Homo sapiens: one gene and its partners. The protein of the gene in region 1 purifies or fractionates together with the protein of each later gene. This does not show direct contact. Each region holds a gene or a part of one and is shown in the gene's direction. Other genes may lie near its edges. The genes, in order: EREG, TMX4 and RAB4A.

Region 1 (7,953 bases):
TTGGCTCATGCCTGTAATCCCAGCACTTTGGGAGGCCGAGGCGGGCGGATCACGGGGTCAGGAGATCAAGACCATCCTGGCGAACACGGTGAAACCCCGTCTCTACTAAAAATACAAAAAAAAAAAAAAATTAGCCAGGGGTAGTGGCGGACGCCTGAAGTCCCAGCTACTCGGGAGGCTGAGGCAGGAGAATGGCATGAACCCGGGGGGTGGAGCTTGCAGTGAGCGGAGATCATGCCACTGTACTCCAGCCTGGGCAACACAGCGAGACTCCGTCTCAAAAAAAAAAAAAAAAAAAAAAAAAAGAATTGATTCCAGGCCAGGCGCAGTGGCTCAACCCTGTAACCCCAGCACTTTGGGAGGCTGAGGCGGGCAGACCACTTGAGGTCAGGAGTTCCTGACCAGCCTGGCCAACATGGTGAAACCCCGCCTCTACTAAAAATACAAAAATTAGCGAGGCGTGGTGGCGCAAGACTGTAGTCTACTCAGGAGGCTGAGATAGGAGAATTGCTTGAACCTGGGAGGCGGAGGTTGCAGTGAGCCGAGAGATCACACCACTGCTATCCAGCCTGGGCGACAGAACGAGACTCCATCTCAAAAAAACCAAACAGACAAACAAACAAAAAAAGAATTGATTCCACTGATTTAGACAAAAGGAATCTCAAACCTGTACAACTTACAAAACACCACTGTGGACTGTCAGCCACCATGACAGCTGAACACAACCGTCATTTTAATACTACAATTTAGTCCAAGAGCTACGTGGAGCCCTTTTATCATTACTGGTCTAACTCAATCTTTGAAATCCTCTTTACAATCTTTAGCAAATTTTGTTGATTTCTTGCATTACAGTGTGATGTTAGTCCTTATAAAACTAATTCATAACCATGATTTCCTTTTTAAGTAACTGATCTTTCTTTCTTCCGTATTTTCCTTCAGGTGTGAAGTGGGTTATACTGGTGTCCGATGTGAACACTTCTTTTTAACCGTCCACCAACCTTTAAGCAAAGAATATGTGGCTTTGACCGTGATTCTTATTATTTTGTTTCTTATCACAGTCGTCGGTTCCACATATTATTTCTGCAGATGGTAAGTCAGTGTGGTTTTATACTCTGCTTTTACAAATTACTTTTACATAATGCAGACCTATAAACTGGGTAAAAATATGGATAAAGTATTAGAGAGATAAGATCAAACCTGTACAAATGATATTTACAAGAGTTGAGAAACTATTAAGTATTATGCCCAACACCTGAGTGATGGGATCAGCTGTACCCCTAATCTCAGCATCATACAATATATCCTGTTAAGAAACCTGCATGTGTACCCCCGAATCTGAAATAACTTGAAATTATTTTTTAAAAATATGTTTTTGCTGCAGAACATCTGGATTGAACTTTATTATCAGCTCTGATACTTATTACCTATGTGACCTTACATAAGTCAAATTGAGAGTATCAATTCCCTTCTTTATCAAATATGGACAGAAATTATTATCTTACATTAGTTATAGGGTGGTTGCTTTTAGTATGTAATATGATATTTCATGTGAAAGTAAATCATAGGATAGGTGCTACTGTTATAGTTAACCACCTGAATTTAATTCCTCAAGTCACATTTTTTATTTTATAAAAAACAACCTTGTAAATTAATAACCTTAGAAGCTTGGGTTATCTTACAGTTTAAGGCAGACTGGTGGAACTATTTCTAGACAATTATAAAAAATGGTTGTTAAAAAATAGTTTGTGTCAGTCCCCCAAAACAGTCGTACCTCATCCTCATGTGCATTATTGTCACAAGCTGAAAACAGAAAAATAGAAAGTGAACATTGAAAGTATAGTTTGGCATTTTTTTAAGGGTTAGGAGCAAAGGATGGGAACAGTGTGAATTAATTAATAACAGTTCCCTTTAAAATGTCTCCATGAAACATATTTTGAAACAGTTACAAATTACTCAAGGTGAATTTACGTTTTTATTTTTCTGTGAAAGTAGTGCACTTCCAATTTTGAAGGTCTGAAAGTGTGCTACTTTCATAATATTAAATTTATTTTGTCCACATTTGATTCTAAGTATCCATCAAATAATAATGCCTTCCTAATAAGTTGCCATGACAGAACTAAATATTATTAAAACTGAAATATGCCTGCAAATCTTTGACCACAATCCTTTCCTTTATAGATGGGGCACTGAGGTTTAGAGAGGTTCATTCAAATATCCCAGCTCATATAGTTGACAAATGCCAGAGTGAAGAACAAATTCTTTCTAATTCATATTCTTACAGTAAACATAGACATGATGTGGTTTCCTCAAAGCTACATGTCTTATTTCCAAAATAGGGACAAAATAAACTCAAAAATATTAGGAAAATAGCTTAATGAATAAATGAAAGAAGATTCTAAATTATGATAAATCTATGAATCCTAGCTATGAGACCTTGGACCTTGGGCACATTATATACAACCCATTTGTATTTCACTTTCTTCATCTGTAAGATGAGGATGGTAACAGCAAATGTGAGAGTAAAATAAATAATGCATGTATAGCACTTAGAAAATTGTAGGTCACCAAATTAGTGCCTGATAAATATTATTTTTATTTTGATTAGTGATAGCATTATATCAATGTGATGGAAAGAGTGTATTAATGTAGCATGATTTGTAAATATTCATTCCTTAGAAGGGAGGAAGGAAAAAGAAAGAGAGACAGAAAAAGAAAACCTAAAATTCAGACTTAAATGTGGCCACACGCCTCTTGGAATTTCACAATATTCATGATCACGTTAAAGACTTTGAGAAACTCTTTAAGTGTATTTTATCATTTCATTCCAAAATTGTTTGACTACAGCACATCACCTCTTCATCCCTCTTTTTTTTTTTTTTTTTAACATTGTCCAACCTAAATCTGTTCAACTTTGTCATTTTGGAAACACTATGCTAATGTGCCTTTGGAGTCCATATATAACACACTTGTTCCTTTGCTATTAACTGCAGTGCTAACAGTTTCGTTTGTGAATATTTCCAGGTACAGAAATCGAAAAAGTAAAGAACCAAAGAAGGAATATGAGAGAGTTACCTCAGGGGATCCAGAGTTGCCGCAAGTCTGAATGGCGCCATCAAACTTATGGGCAGGGATAACAGTGTGCCTGGTTAATATTAATATTCCCATTTTATTAATAATATTTATGTTGGGTCAAGTGTTAGGTCAATAACACTGTATTTTAATGTACTTGAAAAATGTTTTTATTTTTGTTTTATTTTTGACAGACTATTTGCTAATGTATAATGTGCAGAAAATATTTAATATCAAAAGAAAATTGATATTTTTATACAAGTAATTTCCTGAGCTAAATGCTTCATTGAAAGCTTCAAAGTTTATATGCCTGGTGCACAGTGCTTAGAAGTAAGCAATTCCCAGGTCATAGCTCAAGAATTGTTAGCAAATGACAGATTTCTGTAAGCCTATATATATAGTCAAATCGATTTAGTAAGTATGTTTTTTATGTTCCTCAAATCAGTGATAATTGGTTTGACTGTACCATGGTTTGATATGTAGTTGGCACCATGGTATCATATATTAAAACAATAATGCAATTAGAATTTGGGAGAAGCAAATATAGGTCCTGTGTTAAACACTACACATTTGAAACAAGCTAACCCTGGGGAGTCTATGGTCTCTTCACTCAGGTCTCAGCTATAATTCTGTTATATGAGGGGCAGTGGACAGTTCCCTATGCCAACTCACGACTCCTACAGGTACTAGTCACTCATCTACCAGATTCTGCCTATGTAAAATGAATTGAAAAACAATTTTCTGTAATCTTTTATTTAAGTAGTGGGCATTTCATAGCTTCACAATGTTCCTTTTTTGTATATTACAACATTTATGTGAGGTAATTATTGCTCAACAGACAATTAGAAAAAAGTCCACACTTGAAGCCTAAATTTGTGCTTTTTAAGAATATTTTTAGACTATTTCTTTTTATAGGGGCTTTGCTGAATTCTAACATTAAATCACAGCCCAAAATTTGATGGACTAATTATTATTTTAAAATATATGAAGACAATAATTCTACATGTTGTCTTAAGATGGAAATACAGTTATTTCATCTTTTATTCAAGGAAGTTTTAACTTTAATACAGCTCAGTAAATGGCTTCTTCTAGAATGTAAAGTTATGTATTTAAAGTTGTATCTTGACACAGGAAATGGGAAAAAACTTAAAAATTAATATGGTGTATTTTTCCAAATGAAAAATCTCAATTGAAAGCTTTTAAAATGTAGAAACTTAAACACACCTTCCTGTGGAGGCTGAGATGAAAACTAGGGCTCATTTTCCTGACATTTGTTTATTTTTTGGAAGAGACAAAGATTTCTTCTGCACTCTGAGCCCATAGGTCTCAGAGAGTTAATAGGAGTATTTTTGGGCTATTGCATAAGGAGCCACTGCTGCCACCACTTTTGGATTTTATGGGAGGCTCCTTCATCGAATGCTAAACCTTTGAGTAGAGTCTCCCTGGATCACATACCAGGTCAGGGAGGATCTGTTCTTCCTCTACGTTTATCCTGGCATGTGCTAGGGTAAACGAAGGCATAATAAGCCATGGCTGACCTCTGGAGCACCAGGTGCCAGGACTTGTCTCCATGTGTATCCATGCATTATATACCCTGGTGCAATCACACGACTGTCATCTAAAGTCCTGGCCCTGGCCCTTACTATTAGGAAAATAAACAGACAAAAACAAGTAAATATATATGGTCATATACATATTGTATATATATTCATATACAAACATGTATGTATACATGACCTTAATGGATCATAGAATTGCAGTCATTTGGTGCTCTGCTAACCATTTATATAAAACTTAAAAACAAGAGAAAAGAAAAATCAATTAGATCTAAACAGTTATTTCTGTTTCCTATTTAATACAGCTGAAGTCAAAATATGTAAGAACACATTTTAAATACTCTACTTACAGTTGGCCCTCTGTGGTTAGTTCCACATCTGTGGATTCAACCAACCAAGGACGGAAAATGCTTAAAAAATAATACAACAACAACAAAAAATACATTATAACAACTATTTACTTTTTTTTTTTTCTTTTTGAGATGGAGTCTCGCTCTGTTGCCCAGGTTGGAGTGCAGTGGCACGATCTCGGCTCACTGCAACCTCACCTCCCGGGTTCAAGAGATCCTCCTGCCTCAGCCTCCTGAGCAGCTGGGACTACAGGCGCATGCCACCATGCCCAGCTAATTTTTGTATTTTTAGTAGAGGCGGGGTTTCACCATGTTGGCCAGGATGGTCTCAATCTCCTAACCTTGAGATCCACCCTCCACAGCCTCCCAAACTGCTGGGATTACAGGTGTGAGCCACCGCACGTAGCATTTACATTAGGTATTACAAGTAATGTAAAGATGATTTAAGTATACAGGAGGATGTGAATAGGTTATATGCAAGCACTATGCCCTTTTATATAAGTGACTTGAACATCTGTGCCCGATTTTAGTATGTGCAGGGGGGCGATCTGGGAATCAGTCCCCTGTGGATACCAAGGTACAACTGTATTTATTAACGCTTACTAGATGTGAGGAGAGTCTGAATATTTTCAGTGATCTTGGCTGTTTCAAAAAAATCTATTGACTTTTCAATAAATCAGCTGCAATCCATTTATTTCATTTACAAAAGATTTATTGTAAGCATCTCAATCTTGGTTTGTCAGTTTATCTTAAGCATGTCAATTCATAAAAACAAGTCATTTTTGTATTTTTCATCTTTAAGAATGCTTAAAAAAGCTAATCCCTAAAATAGTTAGATCTTTGTAAATGCATATTAAATAATAAAGTATGACCCACATTACTTTTTATGGGTGAAAATAAGACAAAAATAATAGTTTTAGTGAGGATGGTGCTGAGTAAACATAAAAACTGATTTGCTCTCAGCTGATGTGTCCTGTACACAGTGGGAAGATTTTAGTTCACACTTAGTCTAACTCCCCCATTTTACAGATTTCTCACTATATATATTTCTAGAAGGGGCTATGCATATTCAATGTATTGAGAACCAAAGCAACCACAAATGCATAAATGCATAATTTATGGTCTTCAACCAAGGCCACATAATAACCCAGTTAACTTACTCTTTAACCAGGAATATTAAGTTCTATAACTAGTACTCAAGGTTTAACCTTAAAATTAAGATTTCCTTAACCTTAACCTTAAAATTGATATTATATTAAACATACATAATACAATGTAACTCCACTGTTCTCCTGAATATTTTTTGCTCTAATCTCTCTGCCGAAAGTCAAAGTGATGGGAGAATTGGTATACTGGTATGACTACGTCTTAAGTCAGATTTTTATTTATGAGTCTTTGAGACTAAATTCAATCACCACCAGGTATCAAATCAACTTTTATGCAGCAAATATATGATTCTAGTGTCTGACTTTTGTTAAATTCAGTAATGCAGTTTTTAAAAACCTGTATCTGACCCACTTTGTAATTTTTGCTCCAATATCCATTCTGTAGACTTTTGAAAAAAAAGTTTTTAATTTGATGCCCAATATATTCTGACCGTTAAAAAATTCTTGTTCATATGGGAGAAGGGGGAGTAATGACTTGTACAAACAGTATTTCTGGTGTATATTTTAATGTTTTTAAAAAGAGTAATTTCATTTAAATATCTGTTATTCAAATTTGATGATGTTAAATGTAATATAATGTATTTTCTTTTTATTTTGCACTCTGTAATTGCACTTTTTAAGTTTGAAGAGCCATTTTGGTAAACGGTTTTTATTAAAGATGCTATGGAACATAAAGTTGTATTGCATGCAATTTGAAGTAACTTATTTGACTATGAATGTTATCGGATTACTGAATTGTATCAATTTGTTTGTGTTCAATATCAGCTTTGATAATTGTGTACCTTAAGATATTGAAGGAGAAAATAGATAATTTACAAGATATTATTAATTTTTATTTATTTTTCTTGGGAATTGAAAAAAATTGAAATAAATAAAAATGCATTGAACATCTTGCATTCAAAATCTTCACTGACAATGCAGCCTCATTCTTTTTTTTTCTTTTGCAATTTTTTCCCCACAATACATTAAAGGGTTTAAAAGCAGTGACAGGGATATAATGTGTGTAGACATAATGACTCAATGGTGTTAATTTGGGAAAACATTCTATAAATGTATCACGTTTTATAGCCAGCATAGTGAAGAATTTCTTGTAATAGAAGGAGCCACATTAGTTATAAAATTCTAGGTGTTGGTATTTAAAAATCCTAGGAGTTAGGATTGATTGATTGATTGATTGATTGATTGATTTTGAGATGGAGTCTCACTCTATTGCCCAGGCAGGAATGCAGCGGCACGATCTCGGCTCACCACAACCTCCGCCTCCTGGGTTCAAGCGATTCTCCTGCCTCAGCCTCCCGGGTAGCTAGGACTACAGTCACGTGCCACCATGCCCGGCTAATTTTTGTATTTTTAGTAGAGACAGGGTTTCACCATGTTGGCCAGACTGGTCTCAAACTCATGACCTTGTGATCTTCCCGCCTCCGCCTCCCAAAGTGCTGGGATTACAGGCATGAGCCACCATGCCCAGCCTGGGGTTAGTATTTTTTAAAATAATATTTTAAAGAGTATTTTAAAAGAGTATTTCTAAAAAGAATAGATATCCTATTGGGAAGTAGCATTTGAAAAGATTCATCAGCCAGAATGGTGCCTTATGATTCTCTCAGCCTCTGCAAAGAGGCTTGGCTCCCCTGAGCCTTTAGAGCAGACAAGCTTGATTCTTCCCACCCTTCATCACAGTGATGGATGGCTTCCTTGGTATACTTATTCAGCAGCCTACAGAGTACTTGCTCCATTCCTTAGCTCCTTGGATCCTTCATTAGCTTGCAGCTGGGGAAGGGACCTATGGCTTCAACCCTTTGACAGGGAGGTTAA
Region 2 (5,869 bases), on another chromosome or scaffold:
TAAGCCTCATGTATACTAAGGAGAGTCTTCCAGGTGTGACAATCAGGATATAGAAAAACAAACGTAGTGTTGGGATCTGTTTGGAGACTGGGATGGGAACAAGTTCATTTACTTAGGGGTCAGAGAGTCTCGACCAGAGGAGGCCATTCCCAGTCCTAATCAGCACCTTCCAGAGACAAGGCTGCAGGCCCTGTGAAATGAAAGCCAAGCAGGAGCCTTGGCTCCTGAGCATCCCCAAAGTGTAACGTAGAAGCCTTGCATCCTTTTCTTGTGTAAAGTATTTATTTTTGTCAAATTGCAGGAAACATCAGGCACCACAGTGCATGAAAAATCTTTCACAGCTAGAAATTGAAAGGGCCTTGGGTATAGAGAGCAGCTCAGAAGTCATCCCAGCCCTCTGAATCTCCTGTGCTATGTTTTATTTCTTACCTTTAATTTTTCCAGCATTTCCACCATGGGCATTCAGGCTCTCCACACTCTTCACTATTATCTCTTGGTCAGAGGACTCCAATAACAGCCAGGTTTACATGAACTGTGTTTGTTCATTCTGACCTAAGGGGTTTAGATAATCAGTAACCATAACCCCTGAAGCTGTGACTGCCAAACATCTCAAATGAAATGTTGTGGCCATCAGAGACTCAAAAGGAAGTAAGGATTTTACAAGACAGATTAAAAAAAAATTGTTTTGTCCAAAATATAGTTGTTGTTGATTTTTTTTTAAGTTTTCTAAGCAATATTTTTCAAGCCAGAAGTCCTCTAAGTCTTGCCAGTACAAGGTAGTCTTGTGAAGAAAAGTTGAATACTGTTTTGTTTTCATCTCAAGGGGTTCCCTGGGTCTTGAACTACTTTAATAATAACTAAAAAACCACTTCTGATTTTCCTTCAGTGATGTGCTTTTGGTGAAAGAATTAATGAACTCCAGTACCTGAAAGTGAAAGATTTGATTTTGTTTCCATCTTCTGTAATCTTCCAAAGAATTATATCTTTGTAAATCTCTCAATACTCAATCTACTGTAAGTACCCAGGGAGGCTAATTTCCTTAAAAAAAAAAAATCTATCCATCTACTTCTCTCTTACCTGATTTATGTGTTAGAATAAATTCATGAAATTCGATTCCAAGCATACGAAAGATGCCTAAAGTTGATTCTATGCTCCTTAGATCCAGACAGAATAATGAGTACAGGTTTATGAAATTCTAAAAGTTTCTGTCGTCTTTAAAAAGGAACGTGCAGTATATTTCTATCTGGCTGTTTAGATAACCCTTTCCTTGTATTAATTGTGAGCACGGAGCTCACTGGTGGGGGAGGTTCTGAAACTCTCTGCCCTCCTGTGGTTGAATGAAGATGTTGCAAGACTTGCACAAAGGAGGTTATTCTTCTGACAGCATCAACTTTTAGAGATGGTTCTTTTTCATCTTTCCAATTCAGTTACTTGACAGTCTCCTTCCCCAGTATGCTGAAGTTTGTTAAGAGTCACCAGTAATTGTGCTTTTCAGACAGTAGTGCAGCTTCAAAATCGAGGCCATCACTGGGCTGATGGGCTGGGAGAACCTTGCCATGTGCCTGCCTGTTTCCTGCCCCCTTAGTCACTGCCCATTTCCTGCCCCCTTGGTCGCTGACACACCTTCACCCAAAGTGCCATGGTTCTGATGGTGGCAGTTCCATCTCCCTGACATCAGGAAGCTTTTCTCGATCAGAGCAGAGCGGGGCCTGCCTGCCCTCGTGTCACTGGATTTCTTTCTCTTATAATCAGCTGAAACAGAGTTCTCAAAGAACAGTAAACTCAGGTTCAGAGGTATTATGGAATAAGAATGGTTTCATAGTTTGGCTTTTCTATATAATTCCTCCCTCTCAAACTGAAATATTCATTTTTTTAGTGGAGTATTTGACTAGAGAGAAGGTAAGGCAGAAATACAGTCTACACTGGCTTTTAAAAATGTAAAGCCAATTTCCAACCGGACCCCAAATAGTACAGGTTGAACATTCCGTTCCAACAATCCAAAACCCCAAATGCTCCAAAATCTTAAACTTTGAGTTCCAGCATTCCGTCAGAAGTGGAAAATTTTACACCTGACCTCATTTGACAGGTGGCAGTTACAGTGCAATCAAAACTTTGTTCCATGCCCAAGATTATTAAAAATATTGGATAAAATTACCTTCAAGCTATGTTGTATAAGGTGTATATAAAACAAATGAATTTTGTGTTTAGACTTGGGTCTACTCCCAAGATACCTCATTATATATATACAAAAATCCCCAAATCCAAAAACATTTGAAACACTTCTGGTCCCACACATTTTGGATAAGGGATATTTGACCTATATCTAATTATATAATAAGAAAAATGTATTTTCTTTTTTTTTTTTTTTTGAGATGGAGTTTCACTCTTGTTGTCGCCCAGGCTGCAATGGCACAATCTTGGCTTACTACAACCTCCGCCTCCCTAGTTCAAGGGATTCTCCTGCCTCAGCCTCCCAGGTAGCTGGGATTACAGGCATGTGCCACCATGCCTGGCTAATTTTGTATTTTTAGTAGAGACGGGGTTTCGCCATGTTGGTCAGACTGGTCTTGAACTCCTGACCTCAGGTGATCCGCCCGCCTCAGCCTCCCAACGTGCTGGGATTACAGGTGTGAGCCACCGTACCTGGCAGAAAATGTACTTTCTTTCTCAGAAATACTTTTAAAAAAAATTGAAGGGTGAGGAGAAAAACATCTTGGAGAAGAGGACCCATTAAAACTTTAAATATCTGTGGGAACCATTTTTCCTGATTTTCCCTTTTTTAACATCATGGCAAAGATGGGTTTTTTTCCAACAAAATTTAATTTAATATCTTTCCACTTGAAGATTTTAGGTTTGTTTTCAATACTTAATGAATATAAAACTAAAGGAGAAAAGCCAACCTGAAATAATTTAAACTTTATATGAACATTTCGATAAGAGTTTGTGGATTTTTTCTGTAGATAATATATTTGATCCGGAACTCAAGTGCATGGAAACATGATTTTGATTTTTAAAATCTAAAAAAAAAAAAAATTAAAATCATGCTTCCCTCTATTGCAGTATCAGTTATTTAGTCACAGAATGGTATTTTATGTAAATTAAAATTAGGTGAATGCAATGCAGGTAACTGGTTTTGGAATGGGAATGTGCAGTGCTTTATGTTTGGGGAGTTGGAGCAGGGTATCTTTTCATCAATTAGAAGGAAAGTTTGAAACTTCTGATTACCTTTATGTTGGTTTCTCTTATTATTTGTCTCTTGCTAGATCTGCTAAACCAACCCAGCTTGCTCAGAGATCTCATATTGAAGCAACATACAGGCAATCCACATCTTTCTTTCCCTTTGAAGTATAGTCATTGGATGGGATGAGGGACAGGGCCTGTTGGGTTCACAGGGCCTTGCACTGCATGGGCACATACTTAAAAGCTCTTGTGCATGGAATCCCTGTCTGTTAGCCACAGGCCTCTTTAGCTCTATACATTCAAAATAACTACTGTAGTAGAAAATAGATAAGCTTCAGCTGAGTTGGCTTTTGATAGTGGAAAAAAAACAAAATTTGACTTTTTATGGCCAAAATTCCTTGTTGACAGCTGTGATGTTCTAATATGATTTGGGAATATGTCAGTCTACAGAACCTGCATCCTGTAAAAACACCTTTGGGGTAGACGATAAAAGTCATTTTTAAGGCAAATACTTACCATGTGACTTTTTATTACCAAATGCATCAGTAGTGGAGCTGGTATGTTGTTTCATAGGATGGAAACATTAGAAGTCCAGAGAAAAATAAATTTTAAAAAAAGGTGGAAAAGTTACGGCAAACCTGAGATTTCAGCATAAAATCTTTAGTATGAAGTGAGAGAAAGAAGAGGGAGGCTGGTTCTGTTGCTCGTATCAATAGGTTATCTGTGTCCCTCATCTTGGTGTTACAGTGTTATTTCTGTCAGTATTATGAATATGTGGTTGACCCATCCTGTCAAATGTACCAACATTTTCGAAAGAATTCATTCAAATCTCTTATGCCAACAGAAAAGTTCCTTCTTGTTTAATATCTCTTTACCTCAGTCCTACATTTTGATTCTCTGGAGGAGATTTTAGCTTGTCTTAAAAAGCCAAATTTGGAGTCATCAAGCCTGCTGAACCTGATGGGGCAGCTTTTTGAACAGCTTTCTGGAAGTAAGAACTTCAGTTGAAAAGCCCTTTGATCGCTTCAGCCCGGGACATGCCCTTCAGATGGCTTATTCTCAGTAAAGCTTTATGTAGACTGTGACACTGTATATGTGTGACTCGTACAACTTTGACGTGTTTCTGAAGTGGTTTAATCGTATTTGTTATTAGCTTCTTTGTGGAAATGCAATTTTTATACTAAAAACATTGCTTATTTGCAATGCAATATGTTATAAATTTGTTGTTTATATTACTGGTATTAGTCTTAGCCTAATGAACCTAATTATTTTTCTTTCTGTATTCTTTGCTTCCTCAAATAGCATCTGCAGCAATTGGAATGAGAAATCCAGATATGTGTTTCAAGTAGTACATTGCCTGAATCACAAATCACTTGATCACAGTATTGTATATAATCCCTGATCCTATTTGTTTCATTTTATTGTAAATTCCCATTTGCATCAAAACCTAATGATAGTGATTGGTAAGTAAAAACAAATGGTGTATTGCTTTTCATACAAGTGTTTTCACAAAAGCCATTTGCCTAGGCAGCAAAAAATATTAATTTGTTAAAAAAAATTTTCCTTCGTGTCCATCCTCCATCTAGTCTGTTCATTCATTCTCTCTCTTTCTCCCTTCCTGACTCGGTGAAACTCAGACCATGTGCCCTTTAGTTGCTCTGGAAAGTGCACAAAACCAAGGCAGGGTCCAAAGATCCAAGGCTCTTCCAGCCAGTGTGTTGCCATCAGAAACCTCTGGGGTCTCCCTCTGTCCTGAGGTCTTGGGGTAGCCAGATGGCAAGGGATGCTACTAATCCCCCAAGACACTGTGGATTGGTCTTGTCTTTGGGGCTTTCAGAAAACTCCCTTCTACACCTAACTCTCCCCACCACTATAGTGGAAAAGCATCAAGGTGGTAAGGTGGGTCCTTGAAACACCCTCAGAGACTGAAACAATGGAGATTGGATTTTTGTCTTTTGGAAGATGGTGGGGGATGTGTGTAGTGAGAAGACAGTTACTAAACCTGCATACCACCAAGGCCCTCCCTCAGAGATACTGGCTCAGAATGCTTATTTGCCTATACAGAGAAAAATGTCTGTCGTGCTGTCTGCCTAGATGACTTTGGTTATTCATCCTTGCCTATAGCAAAATGCAGCTTTCAAGCCAACAACACTGAATTACAAATTTAACCCCCTGCTTTGCTCTAGTCTTGAATGCTCTTTGGAACATATTTCACAGTAATAGAAATTCTTTCTTGGAACATGTGAGCTTCTTGAGATTGATAACTGTATTACGACAGTCCAGCCTGTGCTAACAGACCCGCAAATCTCGGGGGCTTTAAGAACAAGAATTGTATTACTGATTCACATAGCCCAGGCCAGGCATCCCAGGCAGGCTCTGTCCCATGCAGGTTTTTCTGGGCCTCAAGGTCAAGGGAGGCTTTGCTGTTTAACATGTGGCTGCTGGGCCGGGCATGGTGGCTCACGCCTGTAATCCCAGCACTTTGGGAGGCCGAGGGAGGTGGATCACCTGAGATCAAGAGTTTGAGACCAGCCTTAGTAACATGGCGAAACCCTGTCTCTACTAAAAATACAAAAATAAGCCAGGCGTAATGGCAGGTGCGTATAATCCCAGCTACTCAGGAGGCTGAGGCAGGAGAATTAATTGAACTCGGGAGGCAGAGATTACAGTGAGCCGAGATCATGCCTTT
Region 3 (7,953 bases), on another chromosome or scaffold:
TGTAACCATTTATCTACCCTCTGCCCTGTAAATAATAAATCCAGTTGCCAGTGGCATCCCTGATCTCTGAAACAATTAAATTTTGTTCTGCAGTTACAAAATATAAACTAGCCAATGGACTGTATAGCTGCGATATTCAATTTCAGCTTATCTGTTTATCATCACAGAAATGTTCTTTCATAGGCAGTGTATTCCCGCTGGGTTTAGCAAAATACTTATTTTGCCTGTCTCCTGCCCATTCAAATAGTACTAATTTCTCCAACAAATTCATCCCAAATCATTTCCATAGAACACTACGATTAATGAAATCTCAAACACCTGTAGCTTGCATAGGGTTTTGTTTTGGGGTTTATTGGAGGGTGTATTGTTTTGGGGTTTGTTGGAGGGTGTTTTATTTTGGGGTTTTTTGGAGGGTGCTTTGTTTTGGGGTTTTTTGGAGGGTGTTTTTTCTTTGGTTCAATTTTTTTCCTCCTTTTCCCTTTTCCTCTGCTTTTCCTTCCACTCACTGTTATTTCTTTAAAATATTTAACCATTCAAATACAGTAGTTGAAACTGTCTCCACCTCATTACTTACTGAGTTCCACACCTGTCACTGGGCGTTATGCCCTTCAGAATGGTACGCTGGTATGTCAGCAGTCACCATCTGTGAGCATCTTAACAGTGCACAGTTGGATGTGGTTCGGATATGGCAGGGCTACTTTCAGGCATAGGTTTTTAAATGTATCATTTGTTTGGGGGTTTTGAGAAAAATCTTTATGTCTCTTTGAGAATAGGGGCTGTGTGTATTATCTTTAAAACTAAATGCATCTTCTCAATGGAATGTTGGAGAAATGAATGGCTAGAGTAATGTCCATTCCCCATTGATGTAACTCTTGGTTTTAGTGTCACTTGTTTAAATCTATAAGCCTGTTAATGTTCTAAAATTAAATATGCTGTTCTTGTTTTTCTTTTTTAGTCAAAGATGACTCAAATCATACAATAGGAGTGGAATTTGGTTCAAAGATAATAAATGTTGGTGGTAAATATGTAAAGTTACAAATATGGGATACAGCAGGACAAGAACGATTCAGGTAGCTTTTCTCTAACTTAATAAAAATATTTGAAAATTTGATTTAAAATAATTGATGATATTCTCTCAATATATAAGGTCTCACTCCCTCCCCAACACACCCCTTCCTTGTCCTAATCTCAGAAACTTCATTTTTGGAAACTTTGATTGACAAGACAGCTAAAATTTAGGTTAGCTCTCTGCAGCATGGATTACTAAAGAATACAGGAGGATCTCCGCGCAACTGCATTATAATTCGGAGGCTGACCCATTCTCAGGAGGATGTGGCACTGTGTATTGTACAGTATGTTTCTAGATTCAAATCAAAGCACAAGCTTGTTTTTCTGTGTTCCTTTTTTAAAGAAGAACTTTTTAAAACCTTGTGAGGGTTTGTTTTGTTTTACATTAACTAGAGCATGTTCTGATGTTTGATACACACTCCACAAAATATTCTCTCCACACTTTAATTACAATAGGGTCATAACTGAGGCTCAGAATGACTTCAGTCACTGCAAATGAGGTTACATGTTTAGTATTCTGTAACTACTAAAGCAAGAAAATAGATTAATATTTTAGTTGTGGTTTTTGCACAGATGCACAAAGTCAGAACTGATATTCATAGTTTTATAATTCAGTGAAATAAAATCCACCCCATTTGTAAACATTTCACTTGAAGTTGAGTACATGTCGTATATTAAATAATTGAAGTTTGGCTGGGCACAATGGCGCATGCCTGTAATCCCAGCACTTTGGGAGGCCGAGGCAGACCTCCTCACCTGAGGTCAGGAGTTCAAGACCAGCCTGGCCAACATGGTGTAACCCCTTCTCTACTAAAAATAAAAAAATTAGCCGGGCGTGGTGGCAGGTGCCTGTAATCCCAGCTACTCTGGAGGCTGAGGCAGGAAAATCGCTTGAACCCGGGAGGTGGAGGTTGCAGTGAGCTGAGATCACGCCATTGTACTCCAGCCTGGGCAACAAGAGCAAAACTCCATCTCAAAAATTAATTAAGTAATTGAAGTTCAATAATTGCTTCAAAAATACCATAACCACCTTTAATCACCATCATTTTTCTGGAAGCATTGATTAAACATGGTGGATTCAATTAGACATTTATGTCTTCCCTCTCAGAACCCCACTGAAATGTCTGTTAAGTAACTGAAATTGAAGTAACTCAAAAAGGCCAAGATTGAGTGAGTGCACAATTATGATTGAGAGATTTCCAAAAAAATCTTAAAGATAGGAAGTAGATGGTGCTCTGACAGCAGAAGGAGCTCCACCTTAAGTACTGTAATGGGGGAAGCCATTTCTTCCTCTGGAGTCCCAGAAAAGGTCAGGATTTGGAAGCATCAGGTTCTACAGGAGGTAGAGGTTACAGAGGTTCATGTTTACACACGAAATAAGAGGTTCAGTCTTTTACGTTGAAATGGAGTCTAGACTCAAGGTCATAAGGCCCACCTGAGGGCATGGGGTCAGGCCTGAAAAGAGGGAAATTAAGTGAAAATGAAAGCCTCTGGCCCCCAACCCACCTCCCCTACCTCTTCCCTGGTCGCTGGCAGCCAGGTGTGTATGTCCCACATAGGAGAAAGGAGCCTTCTCTGCAGAAAAATGAATAGTCAGAAAGGAAAGGCTTGAAGGTAGTGACATTTTGCTTTCCCAGTCAAACAGCCCAGTCTCTATCCAGTCATCTGAAAGTGAAACCCTCCAAGCCCACCTGCTCCACCCACACATAAAGAGCTTCTTTTAGACTTTTTCATTCCTTGCTCTTAATGATCAGGCAGAATTTTGAAGAAAGTTTCTATAGCAAAAGAGAGAGCTCAAAGTAAAGAAGCTGGAACTTTGAGGGAGTAAGAAAAACACACTAAAACCACAGTATCCTTAGGAAGAAGAGCAGAGATTGCATTGGAGTATGTAATAGAAACAAAGTCATACTTAAAAAGAGCAATCAGAATAATATGTTAAATAAACTCATGGTGAAAAATGGGAGAGATGACATAAAGAATCCTCCAGAATTAATCCAGAAGATGCAATGACTATTAGGAGTTCCAGAAGAGAGAAGAGCAGAGAGAATAATAGAAGAAAATGTTTCACTGAAGGAATGAGATTCCAGATTAATTGGCCCACCTAAAATCAAACATAGTAAGGAAAAAGTCCAGACCAGAGCGTGCCATGTGAAATTTCAGAACACCACAGATGAAGTAAGGAAGACCAGAAAGGTTCCAAGAGGGAAAAAGCAGCCACATATAAAGTGTGAAAAATGGAATTGCTTTGCACCCTTCCACAGCAACATTGGAAGCTAAAAGAAATGGAAGCATTGCCTTCAAAACTCAGGGTGAAATAATTCTTCAACCTAAAATTCTAAACTTAGCCAAACTGTAAGTGTGCAAGTAAAGGCTGAATACCAACAGATGTGCAAGAAAGAGGAGGAAGCCAAGATTATCTTTCTCAGAGACTTCTTAGAAATGTACTTTCTTAGAAAGTTTAGGAGGATATACTTCACCAGGACAAGGGCATGATCCCAGAAAGAGGAAAATGAAGCCAGCAGGAAGATCCAGCTCAGAATGGCACAGGTCTAGAGGGACAGTGAGGGAAGACTAAGACAGCAGTCAGTATGTGATGGCACTGCCCTTCCAGGAGGACCAGGGGAACAAGTGAGGGGCTCTGTAAGAGCTCACGACTCTGTCAGAGCGGGGAAGAAACAGCTCTGAAATTCAGTTTCCTAAACCTTTTGTAGAAATGAGAAGAAAGAAACTGTAAGATCCATGAGTGTAAGGGTTTTTGAGTTTTCTGTTTGTTTCCCCTGTGCCCAGAATAGTGTCTAGCACACAGGGGCGCAGTATGTGCTCTTTTAATGACTTAATTAAAGGAAACCCAGTTACCAGAAAGAGAGAACTCACCTCGCTTGTGGAGAGTAGGGCTCCCAGAGAGGAGTGAGGCAGGAGATGGCTGTGTTTAATTTAGAGACTTTTCGTGACATTTCACTTTAAAACTATCCACATGTATTATATTGGTTAAATTACTTTTGTAAGAAAATGTGGCACATATACACCATGGAATACTATGCAGCCATAAAAAATGATGAGTTCGTGTCCTTTGTAGGGACATGGATGAAATTGGAAATCATCATTCTCAGTAAACTATCGCAAGAACAAAAAACCAAACACTGCATATTCTCACTCATAGGTGGGAATTGAATAATGAGAACACATGGACACAGGAAGGGGAACATCACACTCTGGGGACTGTTGTGGGGTGGGGGGAGGGGGGAGGGATAGCAATGGGAGATATACCTAATGCTAGATGACGAGTTAGCGGTTGCAGCACACCAGCATGGCACATGTATACATACATATGTAACCTGCACATTGTGCACAGGTACCCTAAAACTTAAAGTATAATAATAATAAATAAATAAAAGGAAAAAAAAAAGAAAATTTAACACCTCAAAGTAGTATTCTTAAATGTGTATATTTGTATACTGGAGTAATTTGTATAAGAAACTATTTGTCAAGACAGTGTTGTAAAATAAATTTGAAAGTAAAATTTTAAGAAGTAGATGTGATACAGCTTATCTTGAAGAGAACTCGTAGTTCCCTCTTCCTCTAGAAGCTAGGTGCCTGCTGAGCAAGAATAGAAAGGCGCTGCCTCTTAATAGATGTGAACAAGCGAGGCCTTTCCCCCTGCCTTAGGAGGCTGTGGGGTGAAGAGCAAACAGTCCACTCTGCACCTCTACCTGCCACCAGTCCTTAAAGCGTGTGCCTCTTGCTAACAGTCTCAAGGCAGAGAGGAAAAGCTTCAAGCTACATGAAGACCTTGAAGCTTCCTGACTAAGAGCTAAAAAGTACATTTAAAAGTAGCTCTTCTTTGCCAAGCAGCAAAGTAATAATTAGTAATTTTGTTTGTTTGTTTGTTGCAAGCTGCACGGGTTTCTTTGTTCTCCAAGGATAGTTCATTCCTCTGGTGTCTTTTTTTTTCTGACATCAAGTCTATGGGGTTTTTCTTCACACCAGCCAGTCGGATTCTCTGACACCAGCTGGGTGTCCAACACTTCAATTCACTTTTGACACTACCCAGAGTTAAAGGGGACCCTCCAGGCTAAGGAGACCTAGACTGCCACCCCCGCTTCAGACACCAGTCACAACTGGAGTGCCCAGGCTTCCTGCACTTCTTGGCCAAATACAGATCTGGCAGTTCCCACACCCTCCATCCCTCACATCCCCATCAGGTTGGAGAATTTGTTAGAATGATTCACACAACTCAGGAAAAACATTTTTCCTGGCATTTACTGGTTTGTTAGATAGGTGTCAATTCAGGCACAGCCTGGTGGAGGAGATGCTTAGGAGACGAGGTATGGGGATGGGCCACCTCCCAGCACCTCCATGCCACCACCAGCCCAGGAGCTCTCTGACCCCCATCCTTTTGGTTTTTTTGTGGAGGTTTTATTACAAAGGCACGATTGATTAAAACATTATCCATTGATGATTGACTCAATCTCCAGCTCCTCTTTCCTCCCCAGAGGGCTGAGGTGAGGCTATAAGTTCCAGCACTCTCCTCACTCGGTGAGGGCTCCCACGGCCACAGCCCCGATCCCAAGGCTCTCTAGCCTGCTACTCTTCCCACAGTTATCTCCTTGGCTTACAAAAGACACCTTTATCACTAAGGAAATCACAGGGGTTTGGGCCTCTGTGCCAGGAACCTGGGACGAAGACCAAATATATATTTTTTAATTTAATTAGGCCACAGTTAAGTTCTGGGAATGTCTAGCTAGCAGTGGTCCAGGCCCTGTGCTAGGCACTGGGATCCTCTGGTGAGTGAGACAGCAGAGCCCTGCCCCATGGAGGGGAGGCAGGCAGCCAACACAGAGACAGAGACAGAAAGAGCATCCCACCAAGTGGGATGGTGCCACCCAGGAGACAGCACGCTGAGATAGAGGGGGTCCACTGGATGGGGATGCTTGGGGAACGTTGCTGAGGAGATAGAGTTAATGAGACCCAAGGGACAAGGAAAGCCAGCGGTGTGACGAGCCCAGACGGGAGTGGCAGGGGCTGGGAGCAGGGAAGAGAATGGGGCCAAAGGGACAGGTACAGTGACGGAGATGTCCTGTCCTGGGCCTTGATGAGTTGGGCTGCTCTGAAGAATGGACTGTGGGCCACACATGGCAGCAGGGACAGCAGCGTGGGCAGACACAGGATTTGTGTAGTGTAGGAGACTGCACTAGGCTGGCGGAGTGAATGTGGAGGTGCACAGGAATTGAGGATGAATGTGGAGCTGATTTGCTTTAGAAACAGGGTGCGTGGTGATGCCTCTTCCTAGGCCAGGACGGGCCTGGAGGGTGGGACCAAAAAGAGTCCTGCTGTGCAGATGTTAAGTTTGACATGTTTATCAGGCAGTCTCATGGAGATATGGAGGCAGCACTTGGATCTGAGCTGGAGACAAAATTTGAGTCGAATGTTAAGAGAGCCCAGGACCCAGCTCTGGGGAATCGCAATCCCAGCAGGGCAGATTCAGAAGAATGACCAGAGCCAGAGAAGTGGCTGGTGAGCGGGAGGAAGACTAGCAGAGTGCAGGGCGCAGAGGCTGCGCGAGTGAGTGAGGACAGAAATGCCCACTCCAGCTTCGGTTGCAGAGAGGGTGGGGACCTTGACAGGCTTTTGGGGAGTAGCAGAGATGGACACTAGGTTGGCGGTGAAGAAGAGGAAGCTGCAGGTAAAGACAGCTCTTTCAGAAAGTTGGATGTGGGGCCACGCGTGGTGGCTCACGCCTGTAATCCCAGCACTTTGGGAGGCCGAGGCGGGTGGATCATCCGAGGTCAAGAGTTCGAGACCAGCCTGGCTAACATGGGGAAACCCCGTCTGTACTAAAAATACAAAAATTAGCCAGGCGTGGTGGCGGGTGCAGCTACTCAGGAGGCTGAGGCAGGAGAATTGCTTGAACCTGGGAGGCAGAGGTTGCAGAGAGCTGAGATCGCGCCATTGCACTCTAGCCTGGGTAACGAGCGAAACTCTGTCTCAAAAAAGACAGTTGGATGTGGAGAAGAGCAGACAGTGGGACAGTAACTGAAAAGATGGTGCAGCATATTTCTGTTTTGTGTTTTAAGATGGGCGGTACCAGAGCCAATTTATTTTTATTTTGCTAATAGGAAAAATCCTGAACTCCTGGCTTTTTTTTTTTTTTCTTTCTGTTGCCTGGGCTGGAGTGCAGTGGCATGATCGCTCACCGTCACCTCAAATTCCTGGGATCAAACAGTCCTTCTGTCTCAGCCTCCTGAGTAGCTGGGATTACAGGTGTGTACTGCCATACCTGGCTAATTTTTTGTAGAGACAGGGTCTCTCTCTCTTACCCAGGCTGGTCTCAAACTCCTGGCCTCAAGCAGTCCTCCCTCCTGGGCCTCCTAAAGTGCTGGGATTATAGGTGTCCGGCCACTAATGGGAAAAATCTCACAAAGAGGGTGAGATTGACAATGTAGGGGAAAACATGTATGACCAAAAGACGCCTTCTTGAATGTGAGAGTGGATATGACATACTGGGACACTCAGTTTTCCCGTAGTAATAGGGCAGGGATGCAGGTGGGTGTAGGGCCGTGGTGACTATGGATTCCTGTGGTGACTATGGATTCCACCGCGCCGAGAGGTGGCGAGAACTGGAAGAGATGGAGAAAATTGTGCCAGGGAGTGGGGTAGATGAGGAGCTCGCAGAGAAGTGAGTGGATTGCTGAGCCCCTTAGTGTCCATCTAGGGGGTGGTGCTGGCTTCCGCAGACAGCTCACCCTGCTAGGAGTTCTCAAAGGAGACATCCATCAGAGAGCTGCATCCGCTGTGAAGGAATCTCCTACTTGCCACAGTGATGTGATTTCAGGCAGAATAACCCCTCACATGTATGTTCAAATATCTTTGAATCATTTCTCTTTT

What was found.
Region 2: the proteins of EREG (region 1) and TMX4 purify together in Homo sapiens (affinity purification with mass spectrometry; 3 studies listed by BioGRID and IntAct, with this or other methods). This does not show direct contact.
Region 3: the proteins of EREG (region 1) and RAB4A purify together in Homo sapiens (affinity purification with mass spectrometry; 3 studies listed by BioGRID and IntAct, with this or other methods). This does not show direct contact.

The regions. Positions count from the first base shown.
Region 1 is NC_000004.12:74,381,706-74,389,658, forward strand, and holds the end of EREG (proepiregulin preproprotein), read left to right. Parts: intron 1-939; coding exon 940-1,089; intron 1,090-3,021; coding exon 3,022-3,103; 3' UTR 3,104-7,044; downstream 7,045-7,953. UniProt on the Homo sapiens protein: Ligand of the EGF receptor/EGFR and ERBB4. Stimulates EGFR and ERBB4 tyrosine phosphorylation.
Region 2 is NC_000020.11:7,976,238-7,982,106, reverse strand, and holds the end of TMX4 (thioredoxin-related transmembrane protein 4 precursor), read left to right. Parts: 3' UTR 1-4,761; downstream 4,762-5,869.
Region 3 is NC_000001.11:229,287,774-229,295,726, forward strand, and holds part of RAB4A (ras-related protein Rab-4A), read left to right. Parts: intron 1-955; coding exon 956-1,070; intron 1,071-7,953. UniProt on the Homo sapiens protein: The small GTPases Rab are key regulators of intracellular membrane trafficking, from the formation of transport vesicles to their fusion with membranes.